3 linked regions of the Homo sapiens genome follow. The protein of the gene in region 1 interacts with the protein of each later gene in a pairwise test. Each region holds a gene or a part of one and is shown in the gene's direction. Other genes may lie near its edges.

Region 1 (8,010 bases):
GTCTACAAGGTTTTGTTAAAATTAGGTTTAATATTAATAACACACTAATATAAAAGTAAAATTTAGCTTATCTGGTGTAAAAATCATAGAAAAAGCATTGTTAAATGTAAAATGGTATTTGGCTTTCTTTGGTTTAAAAACTAATAAAAATAGGTGCTAAAGAAAATTTCTCAGTAAAAAGGCACTAAGGACTAAGTCCACTGCCAAGGTCCCCACATTTAAAACAAAAGGTCAATTTCTTAAAAATTATATACTTGGTTTATCTTCCACTTTCCTTTCCCTCAAAAACTAAAAGTCTTTTAGCACATGTACCACCCCTAGAATTTCCGGTAAACCAGCACCAGCCTGAAGATCACGTTCTCATCAAAGGGTGGAAAGAAGAAAAACTCGAGCCAGCCTGGGAAGGACCCTACCTTGTGCTGCTAACCACCGAGACTGTTGTTTGTACAGTGGAAAGGGGATGGACTCACCACACCCAAGTCAAGAACCCCCTCCAGAGTCGTGGGCCATAGTCCCAGGGGAAAACCTTACCAAACTAAAGCTAAGAAAAATTTAACTTTTTCATCTATTCTATTACTCTTCCTTCTTTCCTCGCTCTATTGCTAACCGTCTAGTTATTAACATTACCAAGTCAATTTTGCCTCAAACTATTGCATTTAATGCTTGCCTTGTTATACCCTGTGGGGACTTGCCAAGTCAAAGACAGCTCTTTACTTCAGAAAAGTACTTCTGTCCCTTCTGACTCTCCTCAGATTGGGCATTAGTAAATTAGGACCATTTAATCTGGGGAAATTTCGATAAAGATTCCAGTGTCAACCAGGAGTCTTGCCCCACAATGTAGAGCTTTTATGCTGTAGTTGGTCCAACATTCTATGGACCACTAAAGAGCAAGGATGGACTGCCCTAACTGGTTTTTGTAATTTCCTAAAATCATACATTCATTTTACTAGAGGATCATAGAAGTTAAAGACTTAAAACAAACTTTAGCAGTTAAGACAGGATACCAAGATGCAAATGCCTGGTTAAAATGAATCAAATATTCCATCTGCACATTAAACAAAAGCAATTGTTATGCTTGTGCACATGGCAGGCCAGAGGCCCAGATTGTCCCCCTTCCACTAAGGTGGTCCTCCAGTTGACCAGGCATAGGTCTGCATGGTAGCTCTTTTCCAGGATTCTACAGCCTGGAGTAATAAGTCATGCCAAGCTCTCTCTGCTATATCCCGAAGTCCGGCACCCTGCGGGTCAGCCCCCAAGGGCTATCCAGCTTCCGTCTCTCAACACTAAGTTCACTTCATGTCTCCCTGGCATTCCTTGGAGACCTGAAAGGATGCAATGAGCTTAAGAATTTTCAAGAGCTTATCCATCAGTCAGCCCTTGTTCATCCCCGAGTGGATGTGTGGTGGTATTGTGGTGGACCTTTACTGAGCACTCTGCCGAATAACTGGAGTGGCACTTGTGCTTTGGTCCATTTGGCTATCCCTTTCACCCTGGCATTTCATCAACCAGAGGGAGAAAAAAATAAGACATCGTAAAGTGAGAGAAGCCCCTTATTGGTCTTCCGACTCTCACGTCCATTTAGACACAATTGGAGTCCCACAGGGAATACCAGATCAATTTAAAGCTTGGAATCAAATAGCGGCAGGATTTGAGTCAATATTTTGGTAGGTGACAGTTAATAAAAATGTAGATTGGATAAACTATATTATAACCAACAGCAACAAGCTTTTCATGAGTTAAAACTCATGTCGGCCCCAGCCCTGGGGCTACCTGACCTGACAAAACCCTTTACACTCTATGTATCAGAAAAAGAAAAAATGGCAGTTGGAGTTTTAACCCAGACTGTGGGGCCATGGCCAAGGCCAGTGGCCTATCTCTCAAAACAACTGGACGGGGTTTCCAAAGGCTGGCCCCCATGTCTAAGGGCCCTGGCAGCAATGGCCCTGTTAGCACAAGAAGCAGATAAACTAACCCTTAGGCAAAACCTGAATATAAAGGCCCCCCATGCTGTGGTAACTTTGATGAATACCAGAGGACATCATTGGCTAACAAATGCTAGATTAACCAAGTACCAAAGCTTGCTATGTGAAAATCCCCGCATAACCATTGAAGTTTACAACACCCTAAACCTTGCCACCTTGCTCCCAGTATCAGAGAGCCCAGTTGAACATAACTGTGTAGAGGTATTGGACTCAGTTTATTCTAGTGGGCCGAACCTCCAAGACCATCCTTGAACATCAGTAGACTGTGAGCTGTACATTGACAGGAGCAGCTTTGCCAACCCCTGCAAAGTGACTCTGAAAAAGACGACAAGCCCTGCTCCAGTCATATCCGGAAGCTGACTAATCCACACACGGCTGAAGCATGAGAAAACTCATCACGGGACTCATTTTCCTTAAAATTTGGACTTGTACAGTAAGGACTTCAACTGACCTTCCTCAGACTGAGGACTGTTCCCAGTGTATACATCAAGTCACTGAGGTAGGACAAAAAGTTGCTACAGTCTTATTATTTTATGGTTATTATAGGTGTACCGGGACTCTAAAAAGAACTTGTTTGTATAATGCTATTCTATACAAGGTATGTAGCCCAGGAAATGACCAACCTGATGTGTGTTATGACCCATCTGAGCCTCCCATGACCACAGTTTTTAAAATAAGATTAAGGACTGAGGACTGGTGGGGAGGACTCATAAATGATACGAGTAAAGTGTTAGCCAAAACAAAAGAAAAAGGGGTGCCCAAACAAGTCACCTTGAAGTTTGATGCCTGTGCTGTCATTAATAGCAATAAGTTAGGAAGGGGATGTGGCTCTTTTAGTTGGGAAAAAGGCTATATGACCGAAAATAAGTACATTTGTCATGAATGAGGACTGTGTGAAAATGAATGTGGATACTGGTCTTGTGTCATTTAGGCCACTTGGATAAAAAATGAAAAGGATCCAGTCCACCTTCAGAAAGGAAAAAATGGCTCTTCCTGTACTAAGGGACAATGTAACCCCTTAGAGCTAGTAATAACCAATCCCCTTGATCCTCGCTGGAAAAAAAGGGGAGCGTGTGACCTTAGGAATCGACAGGGCTGGACTGGATCGTCGAGTAAATATCTTAGTTCGAGGAGAAGTCTGTGGAAAATTTAACCTTACCAATTGCTGCCTGCACATAGATGATCAGAGGCAAGTAGTCGAAGATATAGTTAAAGACATGACGAAACTGGCACATGTGCCTGTACAAGTGTGACACGGATTTGACCCTGAAGCTATGTTTAAAAATGGTTCCCAGTGCTAGGAGGATTTAAAACTCTTATAATAAAAATTATAGTAGTAATAGCCTGCTTACTGATCCCTTATTTACTATCTGTACTCATTCAAATGGTAAAAGGTTTCATCACTACTCTAGTTCACCAGAATGCTTCAGCACAAGTGTACTACATAAATCACTATCGATCTGTCATGCAGGAAGACATAGGTAGTGAAGATGAAGGTGAGAACTCCCACTAATAAAATGAGTGAGAGTCTCAAAGTGGGGGAATAAGGGAGGAGACCACCCCTCATATTGTCTTATGCCCAATTTCTGCCTCCAAAGAAAGAAGTAGTAAAAACTAAAAGGCAGAAATGAAATCCACAAGCAGACAGCCAGGCACCACACCCTGGGCCTCGTAGTTAAAGATCGACCCCTGACCTAATCGGTTATGTTATCTATAGATTACAGACATTGTATAGAAAAGCACTGTGAAAATCCCTGTCCTGTTCTGATCTAATTACCGGTGCATGCTTGCTCAATCGATCACTACCCTCTCAAGCGGATCCCTTTAGAGTTGTGAGGCCTTAAAAGGGACAGGAATTGCTCACTCAGGGAGCTCAGCTCTTGAGACAGGAGTCTTGGCCGATGCTCCTGGCGGAATAAACCGCTTCCTGCTTTAACTCGGTGTCTGAGGGGTTTTGTCTGCGGCTTGTCCTGCTACACTACAGCAAAAATTAGGTTGTATTATAGAAAATTAACTTTTTTGGTTTTTTTGAGACGGGGTCTCGCTCTGTCTCCCAGGCTGGAGTGCAGTGGCACCATCTCGGCTCACTGCAACCTTCACCTCCAGGGTCAAGCAATTCTCCTGCCTCAGCCTCCCGAGTAGTTGGGATTACAGGCACACGCCACCACGCCCAGCTAATTTTTTAAATTTTTAATAGAGATGGGGTTTTACCATGTTAGCCAGGCTGGTCTCAAACTCCTGGCCTCAAGTGATCTGCCCACCTCAGCCTCCCAAAGTGCTGGGATTACAGACGTAAGCCACCACGCCCAGCCGAAAATTAACTTCTATTAATTGCATACCTGGGTTTGCCTACTGAGAATCATACCCTGGATATTTGTATTCTTTACTGAAAAGAACTGTTCTATCTTTCCAGAAAGTGGTTTCCTAAATTCTGGTTTTCCTCCTGGAATCCTGCTATTTCCTTCTCGCATACTCTAGAGAAATCGAAGTGTTTTCAAAGGTGCTCTGAAGCTTACGCTCCACTAGTTTCACAGTAAATCGCCCCTTGCGAGGGCGCTTTTTTTTTTTTTTTAATGTGTTCTCTGAATCGCTTTCCCCCTTTAACACTGCATGACAAGACTAAAGCCAGAATCCCAAGACTGCAGCGCTACCCCTTCACAAGCCGTCGGGCTGTCCCGGGCGGGGCCGGCCCATTTTCACTTTCTCCACTAGAGGCAGCAGCGCACCGTGACCCTGGCTTACTACGGTAAGAAAGCGGAGACCTTTTGCTTCGAGGCGGTTGGTGGCCAGTAGTCTTGATCGACAAGCTCAGGCCTCTGAACTAAGCAGCCGCTGTTTATGCACGTACAGCCAATGGAAAGGCAGGAGTGCGGCCAACGGCCAATGAGGACTGGTCTTAAGCGGACCACAGGGCGGGGTTTCCCTCGAGAGGCGAACGCCGGGTAAAAGATCGGGAGCGGAAGTGGGCGAGTCAGAGCACATCCGGTGTTAGAAGCGCTGGTAGGCCTTGGAGAGGCGGGTTAGGAAGGTACGTCTGAACCTAGTACTGGGCGAACTGGGAGTGAGAAATGGAAAGGGAGTTAGCAGTTACTGTCTGAGCAAGAGTGGCAGTAGCTTCCTTCTGCGGACAGATGGCACCCTGAAGGAACGAGGCCCTGCTCGGAGACCAGACTCGGGAAAACAGGGTGTGGAGGGAAGCTAGGGAACTAGTGCTGCGCGTGCGCAACAGTGCTGAAGCGGGGGTGGGGCGGAGGCGAGTCTGCGGGGGTTTTGGGGGGTGTCGAGGCCTCTATTCTGCCCCAGAGCGCTGGCGAAGGCCCCTTCTCAGCCCGCCTTTTCCTTTCTCCCGCTCCTTCTCCTCTACTAAGTGTAGACGCAGGGCCCCTTGGCCTAGCTTCGATCGTTCGAATTCAGAGCACGTCCTTCCGAGGTGAAGGAACGCGAAACTCCACCCATCCGATTGCTGTTCGGCTGCGGGCGGGTCCTTTGGTCGGGCTGACCCTGGGTGAGCGGCCCGGAGCCAAGACTCGAGGTAGGGCCTGGCGGGCGGGTGATGTCACACTCCTCTGTGACACGCGAGGCTCCTCAGTTACTTAGCCAACGGCAGAGGCGGGAAGTGAGAGGAGTCTGGGGCTGGGGCTGCCTTCCAGGCCCACGGGGCGGCCCCGCTCTTTTCGGATTGGTTACCTTTGGGCAGGTGAGGTGGCTTTGCTTTGCTTGGTCTTGAGGTTTTGTGGGCGTCTTTCTAAGTCTGCTCAGCAAGGGCGTCGTTGGGCAGTTTTTATCTTGGGCCTACTTGCTGGACCTGTGGTAACAAGTAGGCTTTGGTATCTTTGTATATTTACTGAGTGTAGAATTACTACCCGGTGCCAGCCCGGGCTGCTTGGGGTCATCAGCCTTTCATTGACCACCCCCACAACAAAAATCACTATGAACTTGAGACTGTGTTCTAGCAACTTGTGAATGTGTAACCCAGTAGAAGGGCTGACTGTGCTTGAAACAGACAAGGATTTTAAGGTCAAAGGTAAATAAATGGCAAATGGACTTTTCTAGTTACTTATTGATATTTATTTACAGTTTATCTTTTGTATGTGTGGTTTAAGAATTGAATTCTGGAAAGATACCGGAATTGCATAAACACATTTCTTATGACCTGCGTATACACACTTTTTTCTGTAATTATTGTATTTACACTCTTTGGTGTTTTCTTATTCTTTGTGTCTAATATTTTTGTTCTGGCCTAAAGAATATGTTGACATTTAGATTCTCTGCCGCCACTTTCCTCCAGTAGGGACAGAATAGTTGAACCCTTGAGAAATACAATCTGTACTTTTGATCCATAGTTTGCTTCTTCCGTTATTTATCTGGTTGTGGAAACATGGTTTAGTACCTTCCTCCTCTTTTTTTTTTTTTTTTTTTTTGAGGCAGAGTCTCACTGTCGCCCAGGCTAGAGTGCAGTGGCGCAGTCATGGCTCACTTGAACCTTGACCTCTCCTGGCTTAGGTGATCCACCCCAGCCTCCTGAGTAGCTAGGACCACAGGTGGACGTCACCAGCTCCAGCTAATTTTTGTATTTTTTGTGGAGATGGGGTATCACCATGTTGCCCAGGCTTACCAACTCCAGAACTCAAGCGATTTATTTATTTATTATTATTATTATGTTTTTTTTTTGAGACAGTCTCACTCCCTTACCCAAGCTGGAGTGCAGTGGTGCAATCTCGGCTCACTGCAACCTCCGCCTCCCTGGTGCATTCAATTCTCATGCCTCAGCCTCCTAAGCAGCTGAGATGACAGGCGCGCACCACCATGCCCAGCTAATTTTTGTATTTTTAGTAGAGACGGGCTTTTGCCAAGTTGTCCAGCCTGGTCTCGAACTCCACACCTCAAGCGATTCGCCCGCCTTGACCTCCCAAATTGCTAGGATTACAGGTGTAATCCTTTCCTAAAGAAAAAGAGTCATCTCTCCTGAAGAATAAGAAAAGGTAAAATTAATCTAGATACTTAGCATTTTCAAGTTATTTTCCCTGATTATAGATATAGTTCGCGCTCTTTATACAAATGCTGAAAATGCAGAAAAATGTCATAGGAATCAATGTATGTTTTGGGAGGGTTTTTTTGTTTTAAAGATTTGTTTTCACCTATGGCTGAAACTTTTGAAAGCTTATATAAATGAAAGCTTATTTTTCTACTGTAGGATGGAATAGTAAAAAGAGCACTAGACTATAGTGGTCAGAAGACCCCAAATCTGGTTCTGGCTCTGCTATTTAACTTTCTAATGTTGGTCAAATCAATACTAATGTTTGTTTTAGTACTTTACGTTGATTTCACACAGATTTTCTTATTGGCATTCAGTAGAGCAGGTATTGATCATCATCGTTATCTTACAGATGAGGAAGCTGAAATAACCTTAGGTAAAATGATTTTTCCTAGGTTATATAGTAGAAAGTGGCAGCACTTGTGACACCAAATCCTGTCCTCTTGCCACTATTACATTGCCTTTTTGAACTTAAAAAAGATGTATAAAATGGGCCTAATCTTTCCCTTTCCTTGTGGGTTGATGTGTGAGGATTGAAGGTGATACATATATAAAAGCACCTTAAAAGTTATAAATTTTATATAAATATAGTCAGGAGTATTAGTATAGAAGGTACTACTGCTGGCCTGACGAGTTTCATTTTATTTCGTAAACTGCCCAAGGGTATTAATTTTCTCTAGAGAAACCATTGAATATTCTGATGCTCTAACTTCTGATTTTTTTTCCTTTACTACTTTGACCTGGTTGTAGAATCTGGTAGAAATGTCTTCTACCACTCTGTTTTGTTCCCCCAGAGTTTCTAACCAAACTGCATGCAGCCCTTCGTAGTTTTTATACACATTTTGTTTTCCAAAGATGGTGTTCGAGACCAAGGAGAGAAAGGCTGTCTCCTTGACTTAAAGGTTACCTAAGTGACCCCTTGAGGTAGGTTCCACTCTGAGCCAGCTGGGGAATGTTGATTTGAGGTTACAGCACTCTTGATCTGATAATAGG
Region 2 (7,664 bases), 3.4 Mb from region 1:
CTGGGTGGATGAGAGGAGGCAGTTTGGAACTAAATGGTTGGGTGCTAAATGTAGGGAATGAAGGAGAAGGTCTGGGGAGGGGTGGGCATCCTGAGGAAGAAGGATCAGACTCAGGATTGCAGGGGAAATGTCTCCTGGGTTGTGAGTGGTAGTTAGCTGGGAGCTTGTCTTTAGGCACAGAGGAAGAGGATCCCTTCAGGGGTTCTGATATCTGATTAGATGTTAGGCAAATTCCAAGCAGTCAGTACATGCTCCCCTTTCTGCCTTTTCCTGTCCCTGACTTATTTCCTCACCCCTTCCCAGTCCTGAGCTCTCCCCGGACCCTCCGGAAACTTTCTCCAGAGCCAGGAGCAACCTGCAGGTTGGAAGCCCCTCATTCCTTGCACCTTCTTAATCTGCCCTCAGCCTATCTTGGTTAAGGGTTGAATCCATGTGCTCCTGGGACCACTGGGGTTGAGCTGGCCTGGGTCACAGGGTACCAGAAGGGAGAGGTTCCCACTGCAGTGCCCCAGAAGTAACCACATCTCAGGCCTGGGAGGGGTGGGTTGAGTCATAGCAAGGTCACAGCAGGGACACACATTCCTTTTGGGTCCCTGTTGGCCCCCCTCCTACATCCGTTGCTCTTCTGCCCCAGCTCTCCGGCTTCGTGCGCCCCCTTCTGGCCTCTGGTGGAACAGCCAGGTCTTTTCACCCAAAGCCCAAAGCCCCAAATAGTCCTTTGAATTTGTTCTCCATTTTTTCATTTATTTTATTATTTATTGTAATTAATTGATTGATTTTTAAATTAGTTAATTTTTTAAAATTAAGTAATTAGTTAATTTTTTAAAATTAAGTAATTAATTAATTTTTTAAAATTAAGTAGTTAATTTTTTTTAATTAAGTAATTAATTAATTTTAAAAAGTATTTATTTATTTTGAGACAAAGTCTCACTCTGTTGCCCAGGCTGGAGTACAGTGGTCCAGCGTCTCACTGCAACCTCCGCCCCCCCGAGTTCAAGCGATTCTCCTGTCTCAGCCTCCGGAGTAGCTGGGACTACAGGAGCCTGATACCATGCCAGGCTAATTTTTGTATTTTTAGTGGAGACGGGGTTTCACCATGTTGGCCAGGCTGGTCTCGAACGCCTGACCTCAAGTGATCTGCCCACCTTGGCCTCCCAAAGTGCTGGGATGACAGGCATGAGCCACTGCGCCCAGCCAATAATTTATTTATTTTTGAGACAGGGTCTCACTCGGTTGTCCAGGCTGAAGTGCAGTAGCACAATCATGGCTCACTGCAGTCTTGACTTCTGGGGCTCAAGCAGTCCTCCTGCCTCAGCCTCTCAAGTAGCTGGGACTGCAGGTGCACGCCACCACACCTCGGTAATTTTATAAATTATTTGTAGAGATGAGGTTCTCATTATGTTGCCCAGGCTGGTCTCAAACTCCTGGGCTCGAGCAATCCTCCCACCTCTGCTTCTCAAAGTTCTGGGATTACAGGCGTGAGCCATTGCACCCATCCTCATTTTCCATTTTTGCTTTCCAAAATTCATCTCCTTTATAAGCCTTAAAAATCAGTATGGGAAATACTGGGGAATATTGTCAGGAAAAGTAATATAACTATTTGTCAGAGAAAGAAACTAGGGCCAGCATCATGCAACAGCGGGGCATAAGGCCCTCCCTTCCTTACTTCAGCAGGTGATGTGGGCAAGGCCCTTCTCCACATGGCTCTGCCTGATTTCTGACCTCTCCTTCTCCTATTCCTCCTCCAGTTGCAGAGGAGAATCCTAAGGAGAGTAAACCCCAAGCAGGCACTGCCCGCCCACAGGATGTGAACCGCAGAGACCAACAGAGGAATCCAGGCACCTCTACCACGCCCTCCCAGCCCAATTCTGCGGGTGTCCAAGACACTGAGATGGTGCGTTTGGAGCTGGTAGGGAGCAGGAGGGGTGGGAAGCCCTGGAGACTTCCATCTGAGACTGCTCCCTTGGGCTTGGAGACGTCTCCATTGTCTGTCCTGGGTGCTTGCCTGGTGGGCCAGAAGGTTGGAATGGGGAGCTGGGCTGGAGCGGTTCTAAGCTGCCTACTCTCCCTTCCCCAGGGCCCATGCCGTAGACATCTGGACTCAGTGCTGCAGCAACTCCAGACTGAGGTCTACCGAGGGGCTCAAACACTCTACGTGCCCAATTGTGACCATCGAGGCTTCTACCGGAAGCGGCAGGTGAGACTATTTTTCTTCTCCTCCTGCTCCAGCAGAAGGCTCCTGCCAGGGAGTGGGGGCGGTGCTGCTTACAAAGCTGCATAAATAAGACACTGCCCCATCTTTAAGGATCTTCCAACTTTAGGAGAACATAGAGAATATAATTTATTAAACAAACTTAGAGAATAATCAACCACACACTGTGAGAGAAAACCCACTTAAGGAATGCCCTAACTCAGTGGCTCTTGAACTTGAGGCATCAGAATCCTCCGGAGGGCTTATGCCACACAGATAGCTGAGCCCCACCGGCAGCCTTCCTGATTCAGGAGGTGTGGGGTGGGGCCTGACAATATGCATTTCTAACATGTTCCCTCGTGATCCGGATTTGGGAACGTCACTTTGAAAACTACTGTTCCAGGCTAGCAGAATGCACACAATTTATTGGTTGAAGAGGGGGAACTAAAGAGAGGGAACACTGGGCCGGGTGCGGTGTCTCATGCCTGTAATCCCAGCACTTTGGGAGGCCAAGGCTGGTGGATCACGAGGTCAGGAGTTCAAGATCAGCCTGAACAACCTGGTGAAACCCCATCTGTTTTAAAAATTACAAAAATTAGCCAGATGTGGTGGCATGCACCTGTAATCCCAGCTACTCAGGAGGCTGAGGCAAGAGAATTGCTTGAACCTGGGAGGTGGAGGTTGCAGTGAGCAGAGATCATGCCAATGCATTCCAGCCAGGGCGACAGAGCGAGACTCCATCTCAAAAAAAAAAAAAAAAAAAAAAAAAAGAGAGGGAACCCCCGAGGAGACGCTCAGGTGTTTTTACATCCTCAGACTCAGATGTCCCCTCTCATTCTCCTGCTGGAAGCCTCTGGCCTCACTCCTGACCTGTGTGCCTCTCTCTCCAGTGCCGCTCCTCCCAGGGGCAGCGCCGAGGTCCCTGCTGGTGTGTGGATCGGATGGGCAAGTCCCTGCCAGGGTCTCCAGATGGCAATGGAAGCTCCTCCTGCCCCACTGGGAGTAGCGGCTAAAGCTGGGGGATAGAGGGGCTGCAGGGCCACTGGAAGGAACATGGAGCTGTCATCACTCAACAAAAAACCGAGGCCCTCAATCCACCTTCAGGCCCCGCCCCATGGGCCCCTCACCGCTGGTTGGAAAGAGTGTTGGTGTTGGCTGGGGTGTCAATAAAGCTGTGCTTGGGGTCGCTGGCTTGTGTCTCTGTGTCTGCCTCTCACAATTCTGGAATCCCTGGCCCTCTCTTTACCCCACTACAGCTCACTCACAGCATTTCTCCTTTCCTGTGGATACCTTTAGTCCTTCCTGTGACAGCCAGGCAGAAGCTTCAAGCCATCAAGCCTCACAGAGCTGCCCACCAGGAGTTGGGAGTGGGAAGGGGAGACACTGAGATCATGGCCTTAATCTGAAGTTGTGACCTTGTTTCTAACACTGATCTTTGGACACAAAGGGAGGGGAAGGATTAATAGTTAATCCCAGCAGGAACCCAGCAAAGAGGAACTCTCAAAGCACATACCCTTCTGTTACTTCCTACTAAAAAAAGAAGGAAATTATTACTAATATATGAGCTCATCCCATGGCCCTGAACCATGTGATTTTACCTGGACAACCTCATTTTGAGCTTACGATAACCTTGTGATATAGGGATTTTTACCCCTATTTTTCAGAGGAGGAAACTGGCTTAAAATTTGGGGTCACTTGCCTGAAATTATATAGCTGGTAAATGACAGAGGGAGGTTTGCATCCGGTTCTTCCATATGTGACAATACCTGGTATTCCCTAGGTGCTGAATACGTGTTTGTTTAGTCTCCTTTCTGCCTACATGCTCACCCAAGCAGGTGTCAGGAAGCGGCCCTGTCAGTTCAGGGGCCCTGACACTCAGCCTTTCCTGGAGGGGCCCCAGTTCCGTGAGTAGCACAGTGCCAACCCCATCAGAATATTACCACATGTGTCAATCACACACCTTGTGGTGAAAGCGAGCTGAACGCACTGATACATGAAGACATTTCTGACTCCTCCCTGACCTTCAGCCTGCTGGGAGAGAGACTGGAAGGCCAGCCATGCTAGGTGACAAGCTTCTGAGAGGCAAAGTTCCCCTCCCCAAGATGTACCCAGCCACTATTCCTGTGTGTGTGTGGCGGGGTGGATAGCACCCTTGGAGCTGGGCATCTGGATGGTGGTTGGGGTGTTAGGGGGATGTGGCGATCCCTGCGACAGACAGCAGAGTGAGGTCTGAATCTGAGAAGCTCTGCCTCCAGATCAGATAACCTATCGCACTCCCAGAGGCCCCCTCCTCCTGAAAGGACTTTAGTCTTTGGAGCTGTCACCTGAGCTGAGTGGGACAAGAGCTCTACAGGGCAGGCCACACTGCGAAGGAAGGAGGCAACACGGGCAAGGGCTGCCTGCTGCCCGCTGGAGACCGCACCATGGAGCCAGGCGGGGCCCGTCTGCGTCTGCAGAGGACAGAAGGGCTGGGAGGGGAGCGGGAGCGCCAACCCTGTGGAGATGGTGAGCCGCCCTCGGGGGTGCAGAAGGCACAGGCAAGTGGGGGGGAGGCGGGGAGAGATGCGCTATGGAGAGAAGGCTCCAACTGCCTGATGCCAATCCTTCCTGCTGTCCAGAGAGGCCAAGGAAGGTAGACCCTGGCCTCAGCCCAGAGCCACCCAGCTGGAAGATGGAACAGAAAAGAGCTATGTCAGAGCTGTGGCCTGGCCTTATCCTTCTGACTGTTTAGCCCCAGATAGTGAATGGAGTAGCTTCCCATTCCCTGAGTGCCCTGTTCCCAGTAATGTCACCAGGCCCCCTGCTTGCCTATGGCCTCCTCACCACTGGCAACAGCAACTTCCCCTTCTAGTAGCCCCAACCATGATACTAGATATTGGCTGGTTGGGGTGAGGGCAGCTGCTGAGCACACAAAGCATTTCCTGACCACAGGATGCCTCTGGGTCTGCAGAACCCCAATTCCTCCTGTTGACTGTGCCTTTGATCCCTCCTCACAGGAAACACTGAGACGCACAGAGCCCCGGACTTGGTACAATGGACCCGACACATGGAGGTGAGGGATGTCAGAGGTCAGAGGTCAAGTGGACAGATCCTTGGTAGCAGGAAGCAGGAGTGAGGCTTGGTGATAAAGATGACTTTTTTTTTTTTTTTTTTTTGAAACAAAGTCTCGCTCTGTTGCTCAGGCTGGAGTGCATTGGCACAATCTCGGCTCACTGCAACCTCTGCCTCCCAGGTTCAAGCGAGTAGCTGAACTACAGATGAGTGCCACCAGGTGTGGCTAATTTTTTTTTTATATTTTTAGTAGAGACGGGGTTTCACCATATTGGCCAGGCTGGTCTTGAACTCCTGACCTCAAGTGATCTACCCGCCTCGGCCTCCCAAAGTGCTGGGATTACAGGTGTGAGCCACGGTGCCCAGCCTGATGACTTGTTCCTGAGTGCAAAGATCGGATTCGAATTAAGGATGGAGATGGAGGGGTTTGAAGCACAGGTCCCAAAGGTCACCAAAAGTCAGCCAGTAGATAGAGTCTTCCTGCTAGTGCGGCTGGAGGCCAGGGGTGAGGAGTGACAATCGGAGGTGACCAGGCTGGAATTCAGACCCAGGGAGGGGAAGCCTTGCTCCTGCTGTCACTCCCTGATCCTCGCTGCTGCCCCAGGAAGCCAGAAGGAGATCAACTCTGGGCAGGGATCATGGCTTGTTCATCTTTTTACCACAGCACTTAGCACTGCGGGGTCCTACCCCACCAGCAGACCCATCACCACCCCACCAATGCCTGCCCTTCCCCCCGCAGGCCTGCCACCACTGAACCCCCATCCCTGCTGACCCCCCAGGTTGTTTTTTTTTTTAAAAAAAGCACTGTGCCTGGCATAGACAGAAATTCAGTGAATGTCTGGTGAATGAAAGGATGGCTGACTGGAGGGACAGTGGGCTCTACCCTGGCTTTGTCCCGTAGGCTGTGAAGGCACAATTGCTGGAGCAAGCGCAGGGACAACTGAGGGAGCTGCTGGATCGGGCCATGCGGGAGGCTATACAATCCTACCCATCACAAGACAAACCTCTGCCCCCACCTCCCCCAGGTTCCTTGAGCAGGTGAGTCTGGGGAATGGCTGCGCGGGCTCCTCTGTAGCAAGGATCATGAGCTAGAAACATCACGTTATGTGCCCTTGCCAGCTTTATCAGGACCGTGACTCCAGCCTTCCCTCTTCCCCCCTTGTCTTCCTAACACTGACCTCCATCTACTGGGCCTCGCTCTGCCCTGGCCCTGACCTTCTACCCGGTCCTGCCCTCTGGCCCTAGCCCTGACCTTTCCCTACCACTCCCCTTGGCTCCCAAGTATTGACCTTCTGCATGGCCCTGCCCTCTGCCCATTTACTTTTTCCTGACCCTGAACAAACATCTCAATTCAGGACCCAGGAGCCATCCCTGGGGAAACAGAAAGTTTTCATCATCCGCAAGTCCCTGCTTGAGTAAGTCGGGGTGATGACAAGTAATGGGAGGAAAAGAAAGGGCTTTGGCTAGGGGTCAAGGTACCTCATTTCTCATCCCCAGCCTCTAGGTGGTTTGTGGAGAGGACTTGGAAAGGGTTTCTAAGGTGCAGGTCCCCTATTTGCCCTAGGCATGGTTGTGGAAGAAAGGCCTTTAGCTGGAAGTTCTGGATCGCTAGGCCCCATGCCTCATGTGTACAGTGTCTGAGCTAGTTCACACAACCCTGAGGACCCTCCCACACTGACTTTCGGGCCCCTGTCCCTCTAGTGAGCTGATGGAGGTGCAGCATTTCCGCACCATCTACCACATGTTCATCGCTGGCCTGTGTGTCTTCATCATCAGCACCCTGGCCATCGACTTCATTGATGAGGGCAGGTAGGTCCCCTTCCCACCTGGGACAGGCACACCTATCTGATCAGACCCTCTGGGTCCTCAGTGCCCCACCTGCCCTTGGGGCAAGAGGACACAGGTTCCCCCTTTGGTTATTGGACATGTACCAACATTGCTCCCAACAACCTTTCCACCTGAAACACTCTCTAGGATCCCTTCCTTCCCCAGCCTTGGTTGGCCCTTTGTCTGTCCTCCCAGGGCCGGCCACTCTCAAATGCTTCTCAATGACACCTTGCCCTGAGGCAGATGTGTGTGTGTGTGCACACATGCACACCCATACACACTCCTTTCCAAGTCAGTTCTATTCAAGTAACCTCCATTGAGCACCTCCCGAGTACCAGTCCTAGTGGCCAGAGAAATGAGGGGGGCAGACCCCACTCCTGTCTGTGAGGCACTCCCAGTCTTGTGGGGAAGACAGACATGTAACCAAGTGCCTGGGTGGGTCATTTCCCCCACAGAGCACCCCATCCAACTGTGAGGATGAGCCTCAGAGAGCTGTATACCCCTGGGGGTCTGTATTTTCATACCTCCCACTATTCCCAGACCAAACTGAGGGTTGGGGCTGCTATTTCTCATGGCCCAATAACGAGATGCAGAT
Region 3 (7,061 bases), on another chromosome or scaffold:
GTTACTGTATTTTATGTGTGGTCCAAGACAATTCTTCTTCTTGGCCCAGGGAAGCCAAAAGATGGAACACCCTGACCTACATAAACAATAAACATAACTTACACAAAAGTGCACTTATTTGTTCCACAGTTATTCATCATCTAAGACAGCAGTTCTCAACCCAGGGTATTTTTGCCTCTCAGTGGGATGTTTGACAATGCCTGGAGGCTTTTTTTTTTTTTTTTTTTTTGAGACAGAGTCTTGCTCTGTCACCCAGGCTGGAGTGCAGTGGCGTGATCTCAGCTGACTGCAAGCTCCACCTCCCGGGTTCACGCCATTCTCCTGCCTCAGCCTCCCGAGTAGCTGGGACTACAGGTGCCCGCCACCATGCCCAGCTAATTTTTTTGTATTTTATTTTTTTAGAGACGGGGTTTCACCGTGTTAGCCAGGATGGTCTCGATCTCCTGACCTTGTGATCCGCCCACCCCGGCCTCCCAAAGTGCTGGGATTACAGGCGTGAGCCACTGCGCCCGGCCTTTTTTTTTTTTTTTTTTTTTTTGAGACAAGGTCTCACTCCCATCACCCAGGCTGGCGTGCAGTGATGGGATCTCGACTCACTACAGCCTCGACCTCCCATGCTCAGGTGATTCTGTCACCTCAGCCTGTGTGTAGCTGGGACCACAGGTGCACACTGCCATGCTTGGCTAATTTTCTGTATTTTTTGCAGAGACGGGGTTTTGTCATGTTGCCCAGGCTGGTCTCAAACTCCTGGGCTCAAGTGATCCACTCACCTTGGCCTCCCAAAGTGCTGGGATTATAAGCATGAGCCACCTCACCCAGCCTGGAGACATTTTTGATTATCACAACTGGGAAGGGACTACTGGCATCTAGGGGGTACAGCTGGAGATGCTGCTAAACATCCTATAATTCACAGGACAGTCTCCCACAACAAAGAATTATCTAACTTAAAATGTCAACAGTACTGAGGTTGGGGAAACCTTGATCTAAGAGGAGCAAGTGACCCTCTTGGAGCAGCTGAAGTGATTTAGTCCAAGTCCAAACCGAGAGGAATTGGACCAGGGTGGCCATCGAAGACCAAGCAGCTCAGTCCCCTCATCCCTGCCACTGTACCTCTTGGGCACACAGAGGCCTTCCTGAGGATGTGATGAGGCTGTCACGAGCCCAGTGACCTGTCCAGGAGCCCTTGTGCCTCATTGCCTCTCCCAGGTGCAGTGATGGTGGGGCACCTCCCCATGCTTCTGGTGGGAAGCAGGACAAAAATATCCTCTCTTCTCAGATCCCCAGCCCACCACGGAGGTCTGTCTGTTGGCCCCATCTACCCCAGAGTGTGGCCTAAGGTGGAACTAGGTGCGAGGCTCATGCCAGCACCTCACTTTCACCCTTCTCCCCAGCCCTTGCTCCACTTCCCAGTCTGGTGAATCTGTTTCTAATGGAGTTCTTGAGCCAGCCTCCTGGGCTAGGTGTGGGGCTGGGAAATGGAGGGGAAGGACCTTCAAATATGCAGGAAGAGGGTAGGGATCCACTCAACATGCTCTTTATATAAATAAACATTTAATAACACCTCGCTTACTCTCCTAAAATGACAATCATAAATAATATGCCTTCACAAGCACTTACTTCTTTAAAATCACACTATAGTGCCTGAGCTATACTAGGGAGAAAAAATAAAAGGAAAGCAATTTATAACCAAATAACACATATTTCAATCTGTCAGTGCTCAGGTCCCATGACACTAGAAAGCATAATGAAGTGTCAGATGCTCGTCCTTGCATATAATAAATAAGTCTGAATTTAAGAAATGTAGAGGATCAGAAATTATTCTGTGTAAGGACAAAAATAAATAAATAGAAGAGCAAAGATATGCTATCAAATGCTAGAATAAGTATTACTTTAAGGCCGGGCATGGTGGCTCGTGCCTGTAATCCCAGCACTTTGGGAGGCCGACGTGGGAGGATCGCATGAAGCCAGGAGTTTGAGAAAAGCCTGACAACATAACAAGACCCTGTCTCTACTAAAAATAAAAAATTAGCCAGGCAACAGTGGTGCACGCCTGTAGTGCCAGCTACTTGGGAGGCTGAGGTGGGAGGATCACTTCAGCCTGGGAGTTTGAGGCTGCAGTGAGCTGTGATGGCGCCACTGCACTCCAGTTTGGGCAACAAGAGTGAGACCTGTCTCAAAAATAAGTAAATAAACAAATACTTTTTTTTCTTTTTTTAGATAGAATTTCACTCTTGTTGCCTAGGCTGGAGTGCAATGGTGTGATCTCAGCTCACCACAACCTCCACCTTCTGGGTTCAAGCGATTCTCCTGCCTCAGCCTCCCTGAGTAGCTGGGATTACAGGCATACACCACCATGCCTGGCTAATTTTATATTTTTAGTAGAGACTGGGTTTCTCCATGTTGGTCAGGCTGGTCTCAAACTCCCGACTTCAGGTGATCCACCCGCCTCAGCCTCCCAAAGTGCTGGGATGACAGGCGTGAGCCACCATGCTGGGCCATAAATATTTTTTAATCTGTGTTTTTTTAAAACTGCAAAAACAGATCACCTTTTGTAGTCTGTACATGTAAAAGAGAGTCAGGGGCTGAGATCATGGTAACAGTTTTCCCCACCGTGAACAGCTGGCCCTGCCCACTAAATGGCAGCAGTGCTTCGCAGTCATTGTGAAATTAAAACACTTCTCCCCACGTTACTAGACTCACACACACACAATCTTCCCTCCCAGAACCACTGAGTTAATGCTTCAGATATTAACCTGACAAGTCAGTAAAATTCCAACTGAACATTTGGAAGGATATATGCCAAAATATTAATGGTGCTTTTCTAAAGCAGAAGGGGAATTACAAGAAGCACTCCCTTTTTTCTTTCTTTCCTTTTTACGTTCTGTATTGTGTAAAATTTTGCTTACAACCTGTATGAACTTTGCAACCAAACCAAAAAAAAAGTCATTTTTGAAGCCAGTGTGTCAGAGCTCCCAGTAGTGTACATGTTTGTTTTGGTCCTTTCAAGGAGGATTCAAGTCTGCGATGGAGAAACCACCAATTCACTTTTTCAAATGCCAAAACAACTCCGCAGGCGTGGAGGAGACCTATCTTGCAGCGCTGTAGGCCCAAGGCACCAGGGAATCCGGTCCAGCTCAGCCCTACAGCTTTGCTCAGCCCCGTCTGCACCGCCGCCCCGTGGCCAAGGGCAGTACTGCGTCCTCCAAAAGGCAAGGGCGGAGGAGGGGCCAGGGGCCTTGCCCCAGGGGCAAGCTTCTTTCTGTCCCACTGACCACATGGCAGTCTGGTGAAGTTTATGGACCCCTCTCTCAGTATAATGGCGGGTAAATATATAAATAAAATATATATGCTGGAAAGAAAACTAATACTGGTGAGATGATTCTTAAAACTCTTTATAAATGTGTAATATAATAATAGCCGTTTCATTATTGTAAATAACCAGCTCTAGGGGCAGGTCTAGGAACTCATTGTTTTCCAAGCAGTGAGGGGTATACACGACGTTTCGAGATATCCACAACTTGATGTGCCAGTGTCTGTGATTGTAATTGGTAACAAAGTTGCAGGTACTGCTAACAGTACACTCTGAATAAGAGGAAAAGCTAAATATTAGAAGTTGATGAAAGTCAATATGTAACTTTTTCCCATGCGAATTCGACTTACAGACCCCTTAGGGCGCACGGACCACAGGTTAAGGCCCCCTTGAAGGGGCACGAGTTTAGGAGAAACTCTGGTGTGGGTTTTCAGTCCTGGAAGGTGAGCCCTGGGGTAGGCACGCGTGGGCGCTCAGAAAAGGGAAGGCAGAGGCGCCTCCCCGGCTGGGCCTGCGGAGGGATGACCCACACGCCCCTCCCCTCGCTTCCTTGGCCTGGTTTCACGCGACTAGAGAAAGTTAAAGACCCGTGTGACTGAAGAGGAGCTCACAGTTCCCAGCGTCTGCTCCCACGGTGTCCAGCGCCCAGAATGCGGCTTCTGGTCCTGCTATGGGGTTGCCTGCTGCTCCCAGGTGAGATGGGGAGAGGGTCTCGGGAGGGATGTGGGGCTCACCCTTGTGGTCTGCAGGGAAAGGACCTCTTGACTGACTGATAGCCCCACCCCACCTATCCTCAGCCTCCTCAGCCCTAGGGGAGCGGGGCGGGCTGGGGGTGGGGGGAGGTGGGGGTGGCGCCGGGGCCGCACTTGCTGTTTCTGGAACCTAGAGCCAGGTTTTCTCCAGACCTGTGGGTTTCCCCTCATGGCAATGTGGCTGTGAGAGTTGCTTTGCCTCTCTAATCTTAATTTTTCTACCCTGTGCCAAGCCTGGAGGCGGACAAGACACCCCATCTGGTTGCCCTGTTAAACTCAGCAAATATTTGTTGAATTTCGGCTATGCCTCTCCCCACAACCCTGAAAGATGAAGAATTATCACGTTTCATCAATTCTTTTGCTTTCTTTTTCTTTACCTTCTAACACTTAAAATCAGGATAAATCCTACAACTGATGTCAGTTGTTCAGTTGGCAATAGTGAGACCCCATCTCTACAAACAAACAAACAAACAAACAAACAAAATTAGCCAGGCATGGTGGTGCACACTTGTAGTCCTAGCTAGTGGGAGGCTAAGGTGGGAGGATCGCTTGAGCCCCAGAGGTCAAGGCTACAGTGAGCCATGAGCACCATTGCCCTCCAGCCTGGGCAACAGAGTGAGATCCTGTCTAAAAACAAAACAAAACCAGGCACGGTGGCTCACGCCTGTAATCCAAGCTCTTTGGGAGGCTGAGGCGGACGGATCACAAGGTCAGGAGATCAAGACCATCCTGGCTAACACGGTGAAACCCCGTCTCTACTAAAAATACAAAAAATTAGCCGGGCATGGCAGCACGTGGCTGTAGTCCCAGGTACTCAGGAGGCTGAGGCAGGAGAATCACCTGAACCCGGGAGGCAGAAGTTTCAGTGAGCAGACATCGGGCCACTGCACTCCAGCCTGGGCGGCAAAGTGAGACTCCATCTCAAAAACAAACAAACAAACAAACAAAACAAAACAAAACACTCAGAAACCCTGCTGGCTATCTGGCTGTCAGATTCTATCTGAATCTAGAACGCCACCCCTGCACCCCAATTCCTCAATGGGCCAGGGTTAGGGAAACAGCAACAGCCCTGCCCCAAGTTCCCCCAGCGTGGGAGGTTAGTAATGGCTCTTCCAAGGCTGTCCCCAGAAGGGATGACTGAGAAAAGCCTTCCTTCTTCCTCCTAAAATGGAAGCTCTGGCCTTGACCTTGGTACATGGAGCCTGGTTTTTCCAACCTCCACTCCTGCTCTGATTTTAGGTTATGAAGCCCTGGAGGGCCCAGAGGAAATCAGCGGGTTCGAAGGGGACACTGTGTCCCTGCAGTGCACCTACAGGGAAGAGCTGAGGGACCACCGGAAGTACTGGTGCAGGAAGGGTGGGATCCTCTTCTCTCGCTGCTCTGGCACCATCTATGCAGAAGAAGAAGGCCAGGAGACAATGAAGGGCAGGGTGTCCATCCGTGACAGCCGCCAGGAGCTCTCGCTCATTGTGACCCTGTGGAACCTCACCCTGCAAGACGCTGGGGAGTACTGGTGTGGGGTCGAAAAACGGGGCCCCGATGAGTCTTTACTGATCTCTCTGTTCGTCTTTCCAGGTAACAGATATCTCTCCTTCCCCAGGCTGGGGACAGGAGCTGCAGAGGGAAGAGGGAGGGGTGGTGGGGCATAATCCTGGTACCAACATTATGGGCACTGAGTCCTCAGGGAGATCATGCAGGTCAAGCACCGAGCAAGGCTTGGGGCACAGAAGGAGCCGCCTGAGTCTTGGCCATTGTCTCACTCTTGCTGCCCGAGGTCACACCAGTAGTAGATGTCAGAGCAGGACCGGACCCAGATCTGTCCAGGGCTGGGCTCGGCGCCTTTCCTTTCTGCCCAGGTGTGCTGGAGGGAGATTTCCATAGGCTGGGTACAAGATAGACATATCAGGGGATAAAGAAGACTCCTCGCCTGGTGTCAGAGATATTCCTGAGGCCTCCCGAGGCTGGGCCAACCATTGCTGCATTCCAGACCCAGCCCACAGCATCACCCTGGACATGCTGGCCTCGCCCTGCTTGTGCCCTCAACTCTCCCCTCCTGGCCTCCACCTCCCCAGATATTGAAGTCCAGCCACAGGTGCTAGAGTGCCTGGGAACCAGCCTCTGGGTAGGATGCCTGAAGGAGGGATCGTTAAATGCAGGGACACTAGGGGGCCGGGGCTGGAGCTATGGGGCCTGGGTAGGGGATAAAGCACCTCTCTGGGAGCCCAGAACCCCAAGTGGACCTGCTGAGCTAAGGAGAAAGAAGCCAGAGAGGGCCCAGGGGAGTGGGAGCCTTGGTCTGCTGGCCAGTGTGGGCGAGGTACATCTTTGTATCCCCATTTCACGGATGAGGGACTGAGGCTCCAAGAGACTAAGTGATTTGCCCAAGATCTCACAGCAGGAAGTGATGGAACTGGGATTCAAACACAAGTCGTTTCCAGCTTTGATGTCTGCTTTATTCCTCTCCTAGCCCCATAGCTGGGACCTATCCCAATCCCAGGCCCATCCCTACCACCATAGCCCCTATTTTTTTTTTATTCCTTTATCCATGGATCTTTAATTTGAGGAAATAAAGTTAAACTTGCCAAATAGCAGCAGCATCGAACCACATTGAATCTGTTCTTCATTATTTACAAGATTCTCTTATCTCTTCCAATTCTTATCAGTGTTCACATGTCATTTCTACCAGTTATGATCAAGTTCGCTTGTGTTTTAGGTTTACCCTCATTTGTAATTCTTTATTTGTGTATGACATGTGTATTGCTATATTATCGTCCTATATCGGACTCTATTGGCCTCTCTCTGATGGCAGTTGGGATGTTGAAAATGAAGAAGACTGACGACAGTGATGTGCTGGTAAATGTTTAACAGGCTGGGGATGCTGTCATTTTGTGGTGTTTTCCAATTTCTGTGGTGTCCATTTCTGTGGTCCAATTCCCATGGCCAATTTCCAGCCATCGACAGTTTAACACGATCTCACCAACTCCTGAAAAGTTAACAGT

The links.
Region 2: the proteins of TMBIM6 (region 1) and SOAT2 interact in binary tests that used the Homo sapiens proteins (3 or more experiments, as listed by UniProt).
Region 3: the proteins of TMBIM6 (region 1) and CD300LG interact in binary tests that used the Homo sapiens proteins (3 or more experiments, as listed by UniProt).

Annotation. Positions count from the first base shown.
Region 1 is NC_000012.12:49,736,602-49,744,611, forward strand, and holds the start of TMBIM6 (bax inhibitor 1), read left to right. Parts: upstream 1-4,955; 5' UTR 4,956-5,010; exon of another isoform or gene 5,011-5,167; intron 5,168-5,267; exon of another isoform or gene 5,268-5,535; coding exon of another isoform or gene 5,536-5,679; intron 5,680-5,836; exon of another isoform or gene 5,837-6,006; intron 6,007-6,815; exon of another isoform or gene 6,816-6,964; intron 6,965-7,811; exon of another isoform or gene 7,812-7,941; intron 7,942-8,010. UniProt on the Homo sapiens protein: Endoplasmic reticulum (ER)-resident protein that confers cellular protection as an anti-apoptotic protein by limiting multiple stress-inducing pathways surrounding the endoplasmic reticulum and mitochondria.
Region 2 is NC_000012.12:53,098,964-53,106,627, forward strand, and holds the start of SOAT2 (sterol O-acyltransferase 2), read left to right. Parts: upstream 1-4,522; 5' UTR 4,523-4,614; coding exon 4,615-4,696; intron 4,697-5,187; coding exon 5,188-5,243; intron 5,244-6,143; coding exon 6,144-6,280; intron 6,281-6,597; coding exon 6,598-6,657; intron 6,658-6,943; coding exon 6,944-7,051; intron 7,052-7,664. Other genes in the region: IGFBP6 (insulin-like growth factor-binding protein 6 precursor), read left to right, coding at 1,749-1,894, 2,078-2,197, 3,082-3,204. UniProt on the Homo sapiens protein: Catalyzes the formation of fatty acid-cholesterol esters, which are less soluble in membranes than cholesterol. Plays a role in lipoprotein assembly and dietary cholesterol absorption.
Region 3 is NC_000017.11:43,843,257-43,850,317, forward strand, and holds the start of CD300LG (CMRF35-like molecule 9 isoform 1 precursor), read left to right. Parts: upstream 1-3,919; 5' UTR 3,920-3,960; coding exon 3,961-4,003; intron 4,004-5,301; coding exon 5,302-5,637; intron 5,638-6,493; exon of another isoform or gene 6,494-7,045; intron 7,046-7,061. UniProt on the Homo sapiens protein: Receptor which may mediate L-selectin-dependent lymphocyte rollings. Binds SELL in a calcium dependent manner. Binds lymphocyte.